4 linked regions of the Homo sapiens genome follow. The protein of the gene in region 2 purifies or fractionates together with the protein of the main gene of each other region. This does not show direct contact. Each region holds a gene or a part of one and is shown on either strand. Other genes may lie near its edges.

What was found.
Region 1: the proteins of CUL2 (region 2) and CSTA purify together in Homo sapiens (affinity purification with mass spectrometry; 2 studies listed by BioGRID and IntAct, with this or other methods). This does not show direct contact.
Region 3: the proteins of CUL2 (region 2) and ANKRD39 purify together in Homo sapiens (affinity purification with mass spectrometry; 2 studies listed by BioGRID and IntAct, with this or other methods). This does not show direct contact.
Region 4: the proteins of CUL2 (region 2) and TRIM44 purify together in Homo sapiens (affinity purification with mass spectrometry; 3 studies listed by BioGRID and IntAct, with this or other methods). This does not show direct contact.

What each region holds. Positions count from the first base shown.
Region 1 is NC_000003.12:122,328,248-122,331,747, reverse strand, and holds part of CSTA (cystatin-A), read right to left. Parts: intron 1-3,500. UniProt on the Homo sapiens protein: This is an intracellular thiol proteinase inhibitor. Has an important role in desmosome-mediated cell-cell adhesion in the lower levels of the epidermis.
Region 2 is NC_000010.11:35,031,342-35,034,841, forward strand, and holds part of CUL2 (cullin-2), read right to left. Parts: intron 1,933-3,500; coding exon 1,825-1,932; intron 1,154-1,824; coding exon 1,094-1,153; intron 279-1,093; coding exon 150-278; intron 46-149; coding exon 1-45.
Region 3 is NC_000002.12:96,855,217-96,859,265, forward strand, and holds the start of ANKRD39 (ankyrin repeat domain-containing protein 39), read right to left. Parts: upstream 2,801-4,049; 5' UTR 2,772-2,800; coding exon 2,672-2,771; intron 1-2,671.
Region 4 is NC_000011.10:35,725,275-35,728,774, reverse strand, and holds part of TRIM44 (tripartite motif-containing protein 44), read right to left. Parts: intron 2,852-3,500; coding exon 2,612-2,851; intron 1-2,611. UniProt on the Homo sapiens protein: May play a role in the process of differentiation and maturation of neuronal cells. May regulate the activity of TRIM17. Is a negative regulator of PAX6 expression.

The DNA of each region.
Region 1 (3,500 bases), on a different chromosome or scaffold from region 2:
GTTTCTAGAAAAAGACCAACAAATATGACTGCAAGAATGTTCTGGCAGCCCTGGGTCCTGTCCGGGTTGTTAAGCATTAATCCACAGGTTTGTAATGGTGAGTTTTCTGTGGTTCTGCACCTCGCTTTGGCAAAGTTCTTTGATTCTGGAACAGTAGTAGCTGCATAGAAAGTGGTGGCAGTGGGTGTGACCTTTAATTGAGAATTAGAATGTCAGGAGCTCCCAGGGTCAAGGAAATCATCATGAGTGGAGGAGTATTTGAAGCTACCCTCCTGTCATGGGGTCCAGGCTGGATGAGAGACTCAGTGGGCCTGGGCATGTTCTCATGAAGTTGGGAAGGTAGGTGCCTGAAGGATTCTGGTGTGGCTGAATGACAGGTTCTTTGGGTGTGGGACAGTGGGAGAGGCGACTAATAAGGAGGCTGTGGTCAGAGAGGGGAATGCAAATTTGTGGATGGGGTGAGAGCCATGACATGCTAAGTTCCAGGGTGTGCCCAGGATGGTATGCAGATGAAGTGTTTGTGCGGTGTCCTGACTGACAAAAATCATGTTCTGTGTGTTGGCCAGGAATAGTATTCAGCAATTAGGTTTATGACTAAGGGGAGTGTGTGTGTGTGTGTGTGTGTGTGTGTGTGTGTGTGTGTTTGTTGTGTGCATGCACATTGCATGTATAGTAGCCCTTACCTCTAAAAACAATTAAATAACATTTCTTTCCTTCTCATAAATATGCTCACAATTCTCATCAAAATGCTTATTAACATATTATATAAGATAATGGATCAGCAATAATGATCCGGAGGCTTTTGCTGTTGGGCCATTCATTTATTTGGTTCTTCGTTATACAGATTGTGGCTTTTCATGAATGGGCCTGTGTATGGCTCTGTCTTTCTGGATGTGTCCCTCTTAGCTCCATTCTATTTTATTAATTTCCCAAAGGGCAGGCACTATTTTATGTCCCTGCTACCCCCATAGCAATTCACACAGTTCTGTCTACCTAATCAATGTTTTCTGAATGAAAAGACCACAGTTGTTTTCCATCCTGACAACTTGTCTCCCCAAATAGGAAAGATGAGTATAGCAATGACATCAGCTAATACGGAGAATCTTGGAAGAGGGTTTTCTTCCAAGTGTACTTTAGTACATGGTGCTACAATGACATGTTCAGTCTCTGTTATCTTCAGAATGGGAAAACTCATTTCTCCTGCCTTCAAAAACATTCAAGTTTTCTCAATTGCCATCCCTTGTTTGCCTTTCTTTTCTTTCTGCCCTCATCCAATATTCCTCTTTCACTGTGATATCAAATTCCTTGGTCATGCAGTTATCATTTGTCTTTGACACTCTTCCCTTTTCTATGTGATGATCTTTTTCTTCCTTCTTTCTCTCCTTCTAATGGGGTTCTTCAGTTGGCCTTCCACTAAGAAGCTCTCTGAGAAGTCCAAGGAAAGCTGATAAACTTCAGCTCCTCTGAGAATACTTCCACTTTAACAGGTGATTTTAAAAAACAGAGATACATTCAAAAATAAAAAATAATAAAACTAGCAAGTAAGTGACAGGTAGTGGAGATTGTCCCTAAATTACTAGCATCTATCCATTTTCCCTATTCCTGCATGGGGACCTAACTGTAATTTTGGAGAAGGAATTGACTCAAGTTTCTCACCTATAAAGCGGTTATAATAATACCTGCCTCTTGGGGCTGTTTGTAGGGGCATAAATGATATAATTGACGTGAAAGTGCTTCCTAAACTACAAAGAGTTTTCCAACTCTTCCTCTACCTTCTAACACTGAATTGGAAATTGTGCCCTAAGGCTCACTCCTGCAAGAGAGGGCAGATAAGTGATAATTGGGGCTTTAACACCAGAGGAGCTGAACTGCCTCACAGTAATTATTCACCTGAAAGGAAGGAGGTTTGACCAGCAATCTCTAACATCTTTTCTGGTCCAAAACCTGTGATTATAAAAAAAGCACTTAATTGGATATTGTTTTATATTATGTTCCAGATATCTCGATTTTCCCAACTACCCTGTAAACTCCTAGAGGCCAGGGGCCATATCTTATAGACCTCATGTAGCTTCTATAATAATTAGCATAATGCTAGACACCTAGGAGATATACAAGAAATGCACCTACTATGAAATGATTCAGTGATATTCATTTCCTGTATTTATTTATTTATTTATTTTTTGAAACAGAGTCTCGCTTTGTTGGCCAGGCTGGAGTGCAGTGGCGTGATCATGGCTCACTGCATCCTCAACTTCCTGAGTGCAAGTGATTCTCTCACCTAAGCCTCCCAAGTAGCTGGGACTACAGGCGTGTACTACCTGGCTATTTTTTTGTATTTTGGAGGGGGTAGAGACAGGGTTTTGTCATGATGCCCTTGAACCACCCAGATCAAGCAATCTGCCCGCTTCTGCCTTCTAAAGTGCTGGGATTACAGCCGAGAGCCACCGCACCAGTCCTTCTAAGGAGTAAAAAATTTTATTTTGGCTGGGCGCGGTGGCTCACGCCTGTAATCCCAGCACTTTGGGAGGCCAAGGCGGGTGGATCATGAGGTCAGGAGATCGAGACCATCCTGGCTAACATGGTGAAACCCCGTCTCTACTAAAAAATACAAAAAATTAGCCAGGCATGGTGGCGGGCGCCTGTAGTCCCACCTACTCGGGGGGCTGAGGCAGGAGAATGGCGTGAACCCGGGAGGCGGAGCTTGCAGTGAGCCGAGACCGTGCCACCGCACTCCAGCCTGGGCGACAGAGCGAGATTCCGTCAAAAAAAAAATTAAATTTTAAATTTTTAATTTTTTTTTACTTTTTGAAATGGAGTCTCGCTCTGTCATCCAGGCTGGAGTGCAGTGGCACAGTCTCGGCTCACTCCAACCTCCACCTCCTGAGCTCAAGCAATTCTCCTGCCTCAGCCTCCTGAGTAGCTGGGACTACAGGCGCCCGTCACCACGCCCAGCTAATTTTCTAGTTTTAGTAGAAAACTAGAAAGTAGAAAGCTATGTTGGCCAGGCTGGTCTTGAACTCTTGACCTCAGGTGATCCGCCTGCCTTGGCCTCCTATATGGACTTAACTGTGAGGCTGGTGCTTCCACTGAGAAGACAAACTTACCACACTCTCTCCATTCAGTGTATTTCCGTTTCCTAACAAAGCTCCTCTGTGTTCTGCCACTGTGTGGTAGAGAGGGCAGGCAGTCAAACACTGGGGGTGAGCTAACTTCTTAACTAGGTGACTCTTTTTTTTTTTTTTTTTTTTGAGATGGAATCTTGTTCTGTGGCCCAGGCTGGAGTGCAATGTCATGATCTTGGCTCACTGTGGCCTCCGCCTCCCGGGTTCAAGTGATTCTCCTGCCTCAGCCTCTGGGTAGCTGGGATTACAGGCACCTGCCACCACGCCGGGCTAATTTTTGTATTTTTAGTAGAGACAGGGTTTCACCATGTTGGCCAGGCTGGTCTCGAACTCCTGACCTCATGTGATCTGCCCGCCTCAGCCTTCCAAAGTGCTGGG
Region 2 (3,500 bases):
GGATAACCCATGAATTAAACGTTTTGCCAGCATTCTTGCGTAGAACTACATTTAAAAATATTTTAAAAGATTACTTCCTTTCTAATGATTTAGCATTCAGAAATAAAGTTGACCAAAATACAAATGAAACTTTTCTGTTCACAACATACCTTTTGAAAGACGTCCTTGTCATCAATGTATTTGAACACTGTGATGAAGCTCGTGAGCCTGTCTTCCACTTCATTCTCTGTCATCCCTTTCGCTGACTTCTTCAGTAAGTTGTCACAGTACTTAGCAAGCTCATGTAGAAATTGATAATAAATCTTACAAAGGGTGCTTCTGTATATATCACGCCTCAAAGGAGGCAAAGTGGTGATACAAGGTAAGATCAGCGGACAGAATTTTTGCTGTTTTTTTTAGAGACCGGGTCTTGCTCTGTTGCCAGGCTGGATTGCAGTGGACAAGATCATAGCTCACTGCAGCCTCAAACTCCTAGGCTCAAAGGATCCTCCTGCCTCAGCCTCCCAAGTAGTTGGGACTACAGGCATGCACAACCACACCAGGCTTCTAAAGCTTTATGTAATAATCATAAATGTAAACTAAATAAAATATACATCATAAGGTAAATTTTTAAAAAGAACAAGTCAAATATCAAATCATCACTTATTGACCAATAAAGCAACTGATATAAGTAATACAAATTTTTAAAAGAACACCTAGGTGAGTTTCGAGTGGTTTTATAATTTTTGACATTGAACAAGTACTTTAAAAAAAAGTTACAAAAATCTTGTAAGCAAGTTTCCTTCAAAGGTTACCCAAACTTTATCATCAGATTTCCTTTAGATTTCAGATGTAACAGAATCTACATGAAAAGTATTGCAAATTATTTCAAAGTAGATATACATTAAAACCCAAACTTTGTAAAATGGTTATTCTTTAAGACACATAGTATATTGCATTCCTTACATAAATGCCAAACTATATACAATGTAGATAATTTTCCTTCTATTTTTCTGAAAAATGCTACAAAAACCAAATTAATTTGATATTCTGAGTTCTCATTTTCTAATACTGACTTTTCATAAGATTACTTTTCAGCAACCACCAAACTTACCAGTTCAGGTGCTTTGCAAACAGACTTAGGTTCTCTGTAATTTACAACTGACGTAAGGGCCTGAATAAAAAAACACGCCATAATTAACCACCAGCCATAGGGAAAAAGTACAGCTAGTTCAATATAAGCCATAATCTGTACATCCAAAAATTACCCCGCCACATAAAACACAGCATTGCCGGTAGTTTGTTAATATTTTCATGCCTAACATGGTAGACTCCTCTGACTTTATTCTCTAATTACAAAATATCTATATATCCTGTTGCTATTCCAAGATATTCTGTAACTCATTATCGAAATTTGAACAGATAAAATAACGTTACTTAAAAAAAAACTTACAATCTTGTAAGCAGCTTTCCTTTAACGTATGCAAAAGTTCATGTAAAACATATCTATTCTCTTTTCAAATATTATTCAATATAGCCTAAGTATTATGGCCAAAGAAAAAAAATCAGTACTAAAAATTGCAAAATTATGCATGTCTATCCAGAACATATCAGATTAAAAATTCCCCTTATATAGCATAATCACGGGACATTCTACAAGCATTCAATTTAACTATTCAGTTAATAATTTAAAAATTATATTATTTCTATTTTGAATTTCATATCAAAATTACTTAATCTCCATGTCTACATCAGAAACCTCATACTAGAATTCTGATCTTGAAACTGCCTAAAGAATGATAGAGTTTTATGTACATATATAGTATATATGTATTTAAAACTTACCTTATCCAACGCACTCATAAAATGCTGATCACCATTCAAAACAGTGTTGATAAGCTGAACAAATTTACCATGCACTTCCAAAACTGACTCCACAAATAGTGTTGGCATCTAAAAATGAAATATAAGTACAAAACCACATTTTAAGAGGTTCAAGGATATCCAAACTATGAGGTTTATTAGACTTATTAGTAAATTTTTCCTCAAGGAAATTATGTTTCACACATGCACACTTCTCAGAAAATGGTTTTAGCTAAGACGGTCTTAGAAATTTACAACTTTGGTGTTGAAGGCTGGGCACAGTGGCTCACACCTGTAATCCCAGCACTTCTGGGAGGCTGAGGCGGGCGGATCATGAGGTCAGGAGATCGAGACCATCCTGGCCAACACGGTGAAACCCCGTCTCTACTAAAAATACAAAAAAATTAGCCAGACGTGGTGGCGTCCACCTGTAATCCCAGCTACACGGGAGGCTGAGGCAGGGGAACTGCTGGAACCAGGGAGGTGGAGGTTGCAGTGAGCAGAGATCGCACCACTGCACTCCAGCTTGGGCGACAGAGTGAGACTCCGTCTCAGAAAAACAACAACAACAACAAAAAAAAAAAAAAAGGAAGAAAGAAAATAGCTTGTCATTCAACACAACAAGCTGTCATAGACTGTCTAGTACCTGTCAGAAGAACCCACCAAAAGCATACTTTTCTACTGTGTTGGAATAACTTATCTTAAGGATAACAAGACCTGAACTACCAGGTCTATCACTTTCATAGAGGCTTAAATAAGCAAAGACTGCCTGCAAAGTCACTAAAGGCTGAGAGAAAGGAGAGTTAAAAAGCCAATAATCCTGAGAACAGAGACCCCTTGAACTCGGCAAGACAATCCCTCACATCTCAGAGAGAAGAAATACCTAATAGTACAAAAGTGAGTTTTCCCTCTTAATGGAGATAACCATGAAGAAGTTACTACCTAAGACTTAACTAAGTCAGTTGGATTTGAGTCTACCACAAATGTATTCACTTATGTTTCCATCTCCCAGCCTTGACACAAAATTCGATGCTTCTATGCCCAATGTCATTGGACATGGAATCTATAAACGTAATAATGTAAACTAGTAAGTTTGACAAATAATAGAGTAATAAACCTGAATACTATAAACTAATAGTTCTACAAAAAATAGAAAACTGTGGTAAAGGGAATTTGAAGAAATAAAAAAATAGAAAACTTACACATTATTGTGGCATAACATAAAAACTAAAAATTATTACTTGCCAAAAACCAATCTGCAGCTAAGGTAACAGCCTCTAAAAAGTGCTCCTGAACAGTGACGTCTATACACAGATACTATCTTATAGATGAAGGGCAAACAGCTCTACTTAAGAAGAGACAGTAACATTTGAAGTTATTTCTCTCTTGCTCATCAAACATTACCAGTAATAACAAGATTTGGTGATGGGAAAGACAAACTGTTACAGTACAAACTGTTACAGTCATGTGATTGGCAAAGTATTCGAGAAAGATGAGTATTAGGGATATGAGGGTTATTGTTTTGGGTATTTGGGGCAGCAAGCATATACTTACAGAAGATTATTTTAATCTAAATTTGCTTCCTGGACAACCAAATTCAGAGGATATGGAAAGGAGGCAAATTGCAAGTCGTCTATATTACCACTGATTAATACTAC
Region 3 (4,049 bases), on a different chromosome or scaffold from region 2:
AAGGTGTTCACAGAGACAAAGGGATAGAATCCACAAATCAACAGAACATTAGGAAAAACAAAACAGCCAGATCTGAAACAGGAAAGTTGATAAATTAAAAAACAGACTCATTGAAACAAAACAACAACAATAGATGGGTCAAAGAGTACTGCAGACCTAGTCAAAGAGAATTAGTGATTTGGAATTCACCCAAAATGTAGTACAAAATGATAAATAGAAAAATATTGGCCAGGCGCAGTGGCTCACGCCTGTAATCCCAGCACTTTGGGAGGCCGAGGCGGGTGGATCACGAGGTCAGGAGATCGAGACCATCCTGGCTAACAGAGTAAAACCCCGTCTCTACTAAAAATACAAAAATTAGCTGGGCTTGGTGGCACGCGCCTGTAGTCCCAGCTACTCAGGGGGCTGAGGCAGAAGAATCGCGTGAACCCAGGAGGCAGAGGTTGCCGTGAGCCAAGATCGCACCACTGCACTCCAGCCTGGGCGACAGAGCGAGACTCCGTCTCAAAAAAAAAAAAAAAGATATATTACTGTGCGGATCACGAGGTCAGGAGATCAAGACCATCCTGGCTAACATGGTGAAACCTCATCTCTACTAAAAATACAAAACAAAATTAGCCGGGCATGGTGGCGGGCGCCTGTAGTCCCAGCTACTTGGGAGGCTGAGGCAGGAGAATGGCGTGAACCTGGGAGGTGGAGCTTGCAGTGAGCCGAGATTGCGCCACTAAAGCCTGGGGACAGAGCCAGACTCCGACTCAACAACAACAACAACAACAAAACAACAACAACAACAACAAAGAGTTACTGTAGTGAAGCGGATTAACAAATCTCACAGTTTCTTTTATTTGTGACAACAGTAGCTAAAACTGGCTTATCAAATACACTCTTCCCATTAATGTTTTAAAGAATGTATTTGTTTGCACAAAAAAATGAGGAAATTGTTTGCGGTAAAAATTGTTTTTTATGAAAGCAAGATGCCGGGTGCGGTGGCTCACGCCTGTAATCCTAGCACTTTGGGAGGTCAAAGCGGGCAGATCATGAGGTCAGGAGTTCCGAGATCAGCCTGACCAATATGGTGAAACCCCGGTCTCTACTAAAAATACAAAAACTAGCCGGGCGTCGTGGCACACGCCTGTAATCTCAGCTACTCAGGAGAATAGGAGAATCGCTTGAACCCAGGAGGCGGAGGCTGCAGTGAGCCGAGATTGCGCTACTGCACGCCAGCCTGGACAAAAGAGGGAGACTCCATCTCAAAAAAAAAAAAAAAAAAAGCAAGATGATGGATACATCAGAGTAACTGGCCTAACTTTGGATAAGGCAATGTTTACTTCTTAACAGCACAATTGACACTTACGGGCCGGATGATTATTGTAGCGAGCTGTCCTGTGCATTGTACCATGTATACAGCATCTCTCATCTCTACCTACTACACGCCTGTAGCACCCTCCTGATTGTGACAACCCAAAATGTCTCCAGATATTCAAAGTCCCTTAAAGGGCAGAACTGCCCCCAGTTGAGAACTGGGGTGTTTAGGGAGGGTCTCTGAGGAGATGACATTGGAGCTGGGATCTGAAGAAAAGCATCAGCTAGCTTAACGGTTGTAGGAAGTTCATTCTAAGGAGATGGGACAGCAAGTCCAACGGCCTTAACTCAGGAAAAGGTCTTGCATATTTGAGACACCAAAACAAGACCAGTGTGGCTGCGGCGTAGTGATTGGGGGAAGAAAAGCATGAGAAATAAAATGAGGAGGAGAAGTAGAACCGGCAGGGGTGGGTCTACAGAGCTTTGTAGGCCATAACAGGGAATGATGTGATTTCTAATTTTCAAAAAGCCGCTCTGGCTGCTATGTGAGAGTAGAAAACCCTGTAGGAAGGCAAGCGTGGAAGCAGAAAGACCCTCTGAGGCAACCACTTCAGCAGTGCAGAGGACAGCGGTAGGAGGGGCGGAGGGAAGTAGGCAGGTGCCAGAACCACGGTAAAGGAAGAGTTCCATGAGAATGCTTACACAGCAGTGGCAATCGAGGGCTGCATCCGCAAGGGCAGATGACACAGCACAGTGGTTCCCAACGCTCACAAGAAGCACCCTGGTTTCCCGCCTTCCTCTGTTCCTATTGGCACCATAATCTCTGTATAATCTGGGCCAAACGTGTTACCTCTCTGGGTCCCACAGATGAGATACTGTGCCCTGCCTCGAAGGCTGCCCGTGCGAAGCTCTTGCCATCTTTAAAGCATGCAGGCTGCCTGGCACCCGGGGCTAAACAAAGGCCACTGCTCTCCTTCACCGCGCAGCCCCCAGGCCTGCAGCTCCATGCCCCTCAGGTTGGGTGCAATGCCCCTGGTGCAGATTCTGCTCCCCGGGCCCTCTCTCAAACACCTGAGCAGGCTTGTGTCTCCCAGGGGAGGTCGTCCCCCGCTACTCGGGAGGGTTACGGAAACCAGTGCTTCCGCTTCCCCGCCGCCCGCGGGACAGGTGTCTCCTGGCCGAGCTCGTGCGGGGCCCTGGGAGGCTCTCAGTACACGGGAACCGTGGGTCCCGCCCGCCTTCCCGCACCAGGCCCCAAGCCCCAAGCCCCAAGCTCTCGGGGCCCCGTTCATCCGCCTCTCCTTGGCCCCACGCCTCCTCCTTGGGCCGGGGCCTGGTGAGAACCACGAGGGCCGCGCGGCAGCCTCACCCCTCTCGAAGTCCATCTCCTCCAGCGTCTGCTGTACGCCGAGCACCGCGCTGGGATGCGAGCAGCAGGGCCCGTCCGCGCAGGGCCGAGGCGTCGCCATCCCGGCCCCGGCGTCAGTCGATCCGCCCCGGGTCTCAGGCTCAGCCTCGGCGGGAGGGGCGGACGCAGGGCCCGCCCCGCGTCCCTGATCTGGCCGCTCGGCGTCCGCGGCTGTCGCCCTAGTCCCGCCTTCTCGCCAAAGCTGACCAATCAAACGCCTAGGCCTTAGCTCGAGAACCAATTGCAACGGTAGGGCGGGGCTTGTTGCGCCCGGCCGTGCCCCGAGGCCTCCGCGCGAGGGCGTCCAAGGCCAAGCGAGGACTGAGGCGCTGGGTTCCGGGAGCCGCGCGCCGCTGGAGGGCCGCCGGGCCGCCTGGCCTTGCAGGGTGTGGGGATGAGGCAGCTGGGTCCGGTCGGGAGCTTTCCCGTTACCTTCGCCATGACCCAGCCGTCCAGCGACCTCGCAGCCTCCTCTCTTTACCGCCCCTAGTCCCTAGGGCAGGGAGGCGCCACGCGCTCCGCGGTCTTTTTTTTTTTTTTTTTTTTTTTTGAGACGGAGTCTCGCTGTCACCCAGACTTGTGTGCAGTGGCGCGATCTCGGCTCACTGCAACCTCCGCCTCCCGGGTTCAAGCGATTCTCCTGCGTCAGACTCCTGAGTAGCTGGGACTACAGGCGCCCGCCACCACGCCCGGCTAATTTTTTGTATTTTTTAGTAGAGACGGGGTTTCGCCAGGATGGTCTCGATCTCTTGACCTCGTGATCCGCTCACCTTGGCCTCCCAAAGTGCTGGGATTACAGGCGTGAGCCATCGGGCCGGGGCGCGCTCCACGGTTTTTAGCCCCTCTTCCTGGCACCACCCCGGACCAAGGCCGACCGCCCCCGGGGCAGCGGCAAAGTGACGGCTGGAAAGGCCTCGAGACGCCCCTCCCCGTACCCTGCTCTTCCTTACAAGTCCAGCAAGGGGCAGGTGGCCACAACTTGTCCTGCCTGTAGCTCCACCTCAGGGCAGGGGCAGGGCCTTGGTTTGTGCAGAACCCCCTGGCCCCACAGTGGGCGCTGAGTTTACGGAATCGGTCTTCATGATCAAAACCCACCGGGAGGCCGTCTGCGGACCGCGCACCTTCGCAGCGTGCTCCTCAGCGGACCCCAGCCTTCTCAATTCCCAGTTAAAACCCAGGCAGCTGCCTGCTCAAGCCACGATCAAGTGTACAGGGGAGACCGCCTGATCGGCTTAGAAAGAGTGCATGAACGACAGAATGCAGGTTGGGTTCTGTGCCAGTCCCTCTCCAGGACAGTGGTCTGGTGCACACTGGATGTAAGTTCCTTCCCCCGCTAGTT
Region 4 (3,500 bases), on a different chromosome or scaffold from region 2:
CCTTTCAACTGTGGTGTATGTTTAAAAAATTTTATAATAAAATGTTGGAGGGAAGGTCTTATGGCTGAATTCAAAATGCAGGTGATTTTTGATAAATTCTATACCACAAAAAGAACATAATTCCTCTGATGACTGAAAGACAGGTACTAGATATTTGCTCTCACCAATAAGTTACCAGATTAACTGGAACAAGAGGCTATTAAATAATAACAGCTCTTTGTAAACACTCTAGTGGCTGAACGCTATCTCTGTTTTTAATAGCTCATTTTGTCTGTAGCCTGGTCCTTAAGCCTTGTCAGCTCTTGCATCCCTTTAAGAGTAATTCCATCAGAGTTAACAAGCATAGTACAGCTGAGGTGCTTAAAGGACAGCTAATGTCAGAGAAGGACTAAATTCATAGATTAAAATAAAAGAGAAGAATAAACCCCAAAATTAAACTTTTTTTTTTGAGATGGAGTTTCACTCTGTCTCCCAGGCTGGGGTGCAGTGGCTGCAATCTTGGCTCACTGCAACCTCCACCTCCTGGGTTCAAGCGATTCTTCTGCCTCAGCCTCCCAAGTAGCTGGGACTGCAGGTGCTCGCCACCATACCCAGCTAATTTTTCTATTTTTAGTACAGACAGGGTTTTGCCATGTTGGCCAGGGCAGGCTTAAACTCCTGACCTCAGGTGATCCTCCCACCTCGGCCTGCCAAAGTGCTGGGATTACAGGCGTGAGCCACCACGCCTAGCCAAAATTAAATTTTTATTTTTCAAAGAACAACCTAATCAACATAGGGAATAAATGAAGGGGTCGAACTTGATAGGAACTGTGGACAGAATTATGCTGTCGATCCCTTGAATTAACTCTGGTTGAACCTTTTGTTTATTAAGACACAAACTGACCATCTTGACATTGTAAAGGTATGCAAAGCTGTCTAGAACATGGATTCTTCTCATTTTCCCACAGATACAGATGGGATGCTTAGCATATGTCTTATAGTAGGGGGAAAGCACAGGCACTGAAATAGCACAGACTTAAATCTAAACCCTGGCTCTATTTTCTACTGACTAAATGATATTGGGTCAGTATCTCTGCAGTTCTCTGTATCTCAAATATCCCATTTGTAAAATGGAGTTAATGCTGACGTAAGGATTAAATGAAATGATGAATATAAAGTGCTCTCTTGCCTATCTAGAAACTTATGTAGGCACATAATTTCTCAATTATGGGGAGAATAAAATGAAAAGAAGAAGAGTTATTCTTTTCACACATTGATGAAAATTAATCAAAAGCCCTGGATGGGTATAGCAGATACCTTTCAATGGTTTCTTACATTTCCTGTCAGGATAGCTTGGAAATACCTGCCTCCTGGATTACTTTGGCTCTTCTACTGGCCAGTTTATTCTGTGGCCAGGCTCTCTCAAGCCAAGGCAGGACGTCCAGTTAAGGATGGACTTGCTGAGTCAGCAACAGTCCTAGAAAGTCCACAGGACTCTCCTATGTTTTTTTTCTAGAAGGACCTACCCTAAACCTATCTGGCATTACCTTCACTAGAATTGTCAAATTATGAAATCTGATTAATAGTAGCCTCTCTCTAGTGGCTGAAATATAAGTTTTTTGGTTTTTTTTTTTTTTTGAGACAGGATCTCACTCTGTCACACAGGGTGGAGTGCAATGGCACAATCACAGCTCACTGCAGCCTCAACCTCCGGGGCTCAAGTAATCTTCCTACCTCTCCTGAATAGCTGGGACTACAGGCAGGTGAGACCATGTCTGCTACTTTTTTATTTTTTTTTTGTAGACACAGGGTCTCACTATGTTGCCCAGGCTGGTCTCAAACTCCTGGACTCAAGCAATCCTTCCACCCTAGCCTCCCAAAGTGCTGGGATTACAGGCGTGAGCCACTGAGCCCAGCTTGTACTTTTTTTTTTTAATGGCTACCTTAAATAATTTTTTCAAAGTAGATTCAAAATGCCTAAATATGTTGTTTGGTAAAATGCCTAAGACCCTTTTATTCCCGTTAAAAATAACAATGAATATGACAACTAACATTTGTATAGTGATTCAACATTTACCTTGTGTCTTTCATTCATAGTTTTTTTTTTTTTTTAATCTTACAATGCCCTAGTGCACATGCCATTCTTAATCCAGCAGTTATGCCTCCAATTTATGCAGCTGGCTCCATATAACAACCAGCTTGAGACACCTTTTCACTATGTACAAAGTAAGTCCAAAATCTTTCATTCTGGCCTGCTTTATGCTCTACTTCATGATTTGTTCTCATTCAGCCCAGGTCTATGATGACTTTAAAGGCTCATTTCACAACTTGGGGTCTGTCGCTTGCCCTCTTCTCTGGCTGTAATTTTTGGCTTCCTTTCTTAATTGTGATTAGTATCTGCCCCCACTGACTATACTCCTTAAAGTAATGATGGATAAATAATTTGGTAGGCCCAGCCACTGAGTAAACTAGTGGCCAATACTTCCATACTGGTTTATACACCATGTGAAACACTTATACTCTACCTAGACTTCAATTCATTCACGTTCAGGGACCACATGGGGTCTAACAAATATGGCATCAGTTTCCTCCTATTTCTCTTGCTACTAATAATTATGGGCTTTTCCTTTACCTCTGCCTTTGGCTCAGCTGATTCATTAGAGGTATCAAGTTGTTCCTTGGCTTGGGCCATCTGAGTCATCAACCTATCCATGTGGGATTGGATGTCTGCCAGTATCTCAGTCACATGAGCTGTGGCCATTGCCTCTTGGATGTCCACTAGATGAAGGGCCTTCTGCTCCTCATCAGCAATCACTTTCTGAACTTTCTTAAATTCCTGCTGTATAAACATCTTCATTTGGTCCCGAGTTACCTTTAGAACAGAGACAAATAAGAAGAATAAGTTGAACATACAAAGAAACAAAAGGGCAGAGTTATTACTATACAGCCCTGGCCAAAATACACACCATGGATCCTATCCAATCCTAAAGTTTTGGGAATATCCTAAAAACAATGTTCCCCTAATATCATTGATGAATTTCCTGCTAATCTTTTTGCCTTTTTCATTCTTCAGGGAGTAATTTCTTATCCTTTTTTCCTTTCGGTTTTGTTCATTTTTATACCAGTAATATATACGATGAATATATACAGTAAAAAATGAGGCCGGGCGTGGTGGCTCATGAATGTAATCCTAGCACTTTGGGAGGCCAAGGCGGCTGGATCACTTGAGGTCAGGAGTTCGAAACCAGCCTGGCCAACATGAGGAAACCCTGTCTCTACTAAAAATACAAAAAAACTTGCTGGGCATGGTGGTGGGTGCCTGTAATCCCAGCTACTTGGGAGGCTGAGGCAGGAGAATTGCTTGAACCAAGAAGGTGGAGGTTGCAGTGAGCCCAGATCGCACCACTGCACTCCACCCTGGGCAACAGAGCAAGTCTCCATCTCAAAACAAAACAAAAAACGAAATTCTTCCTCTCCGCCCCAATTACTGTTAATAGTTTGGTATGTATCCTCCCAGCCAT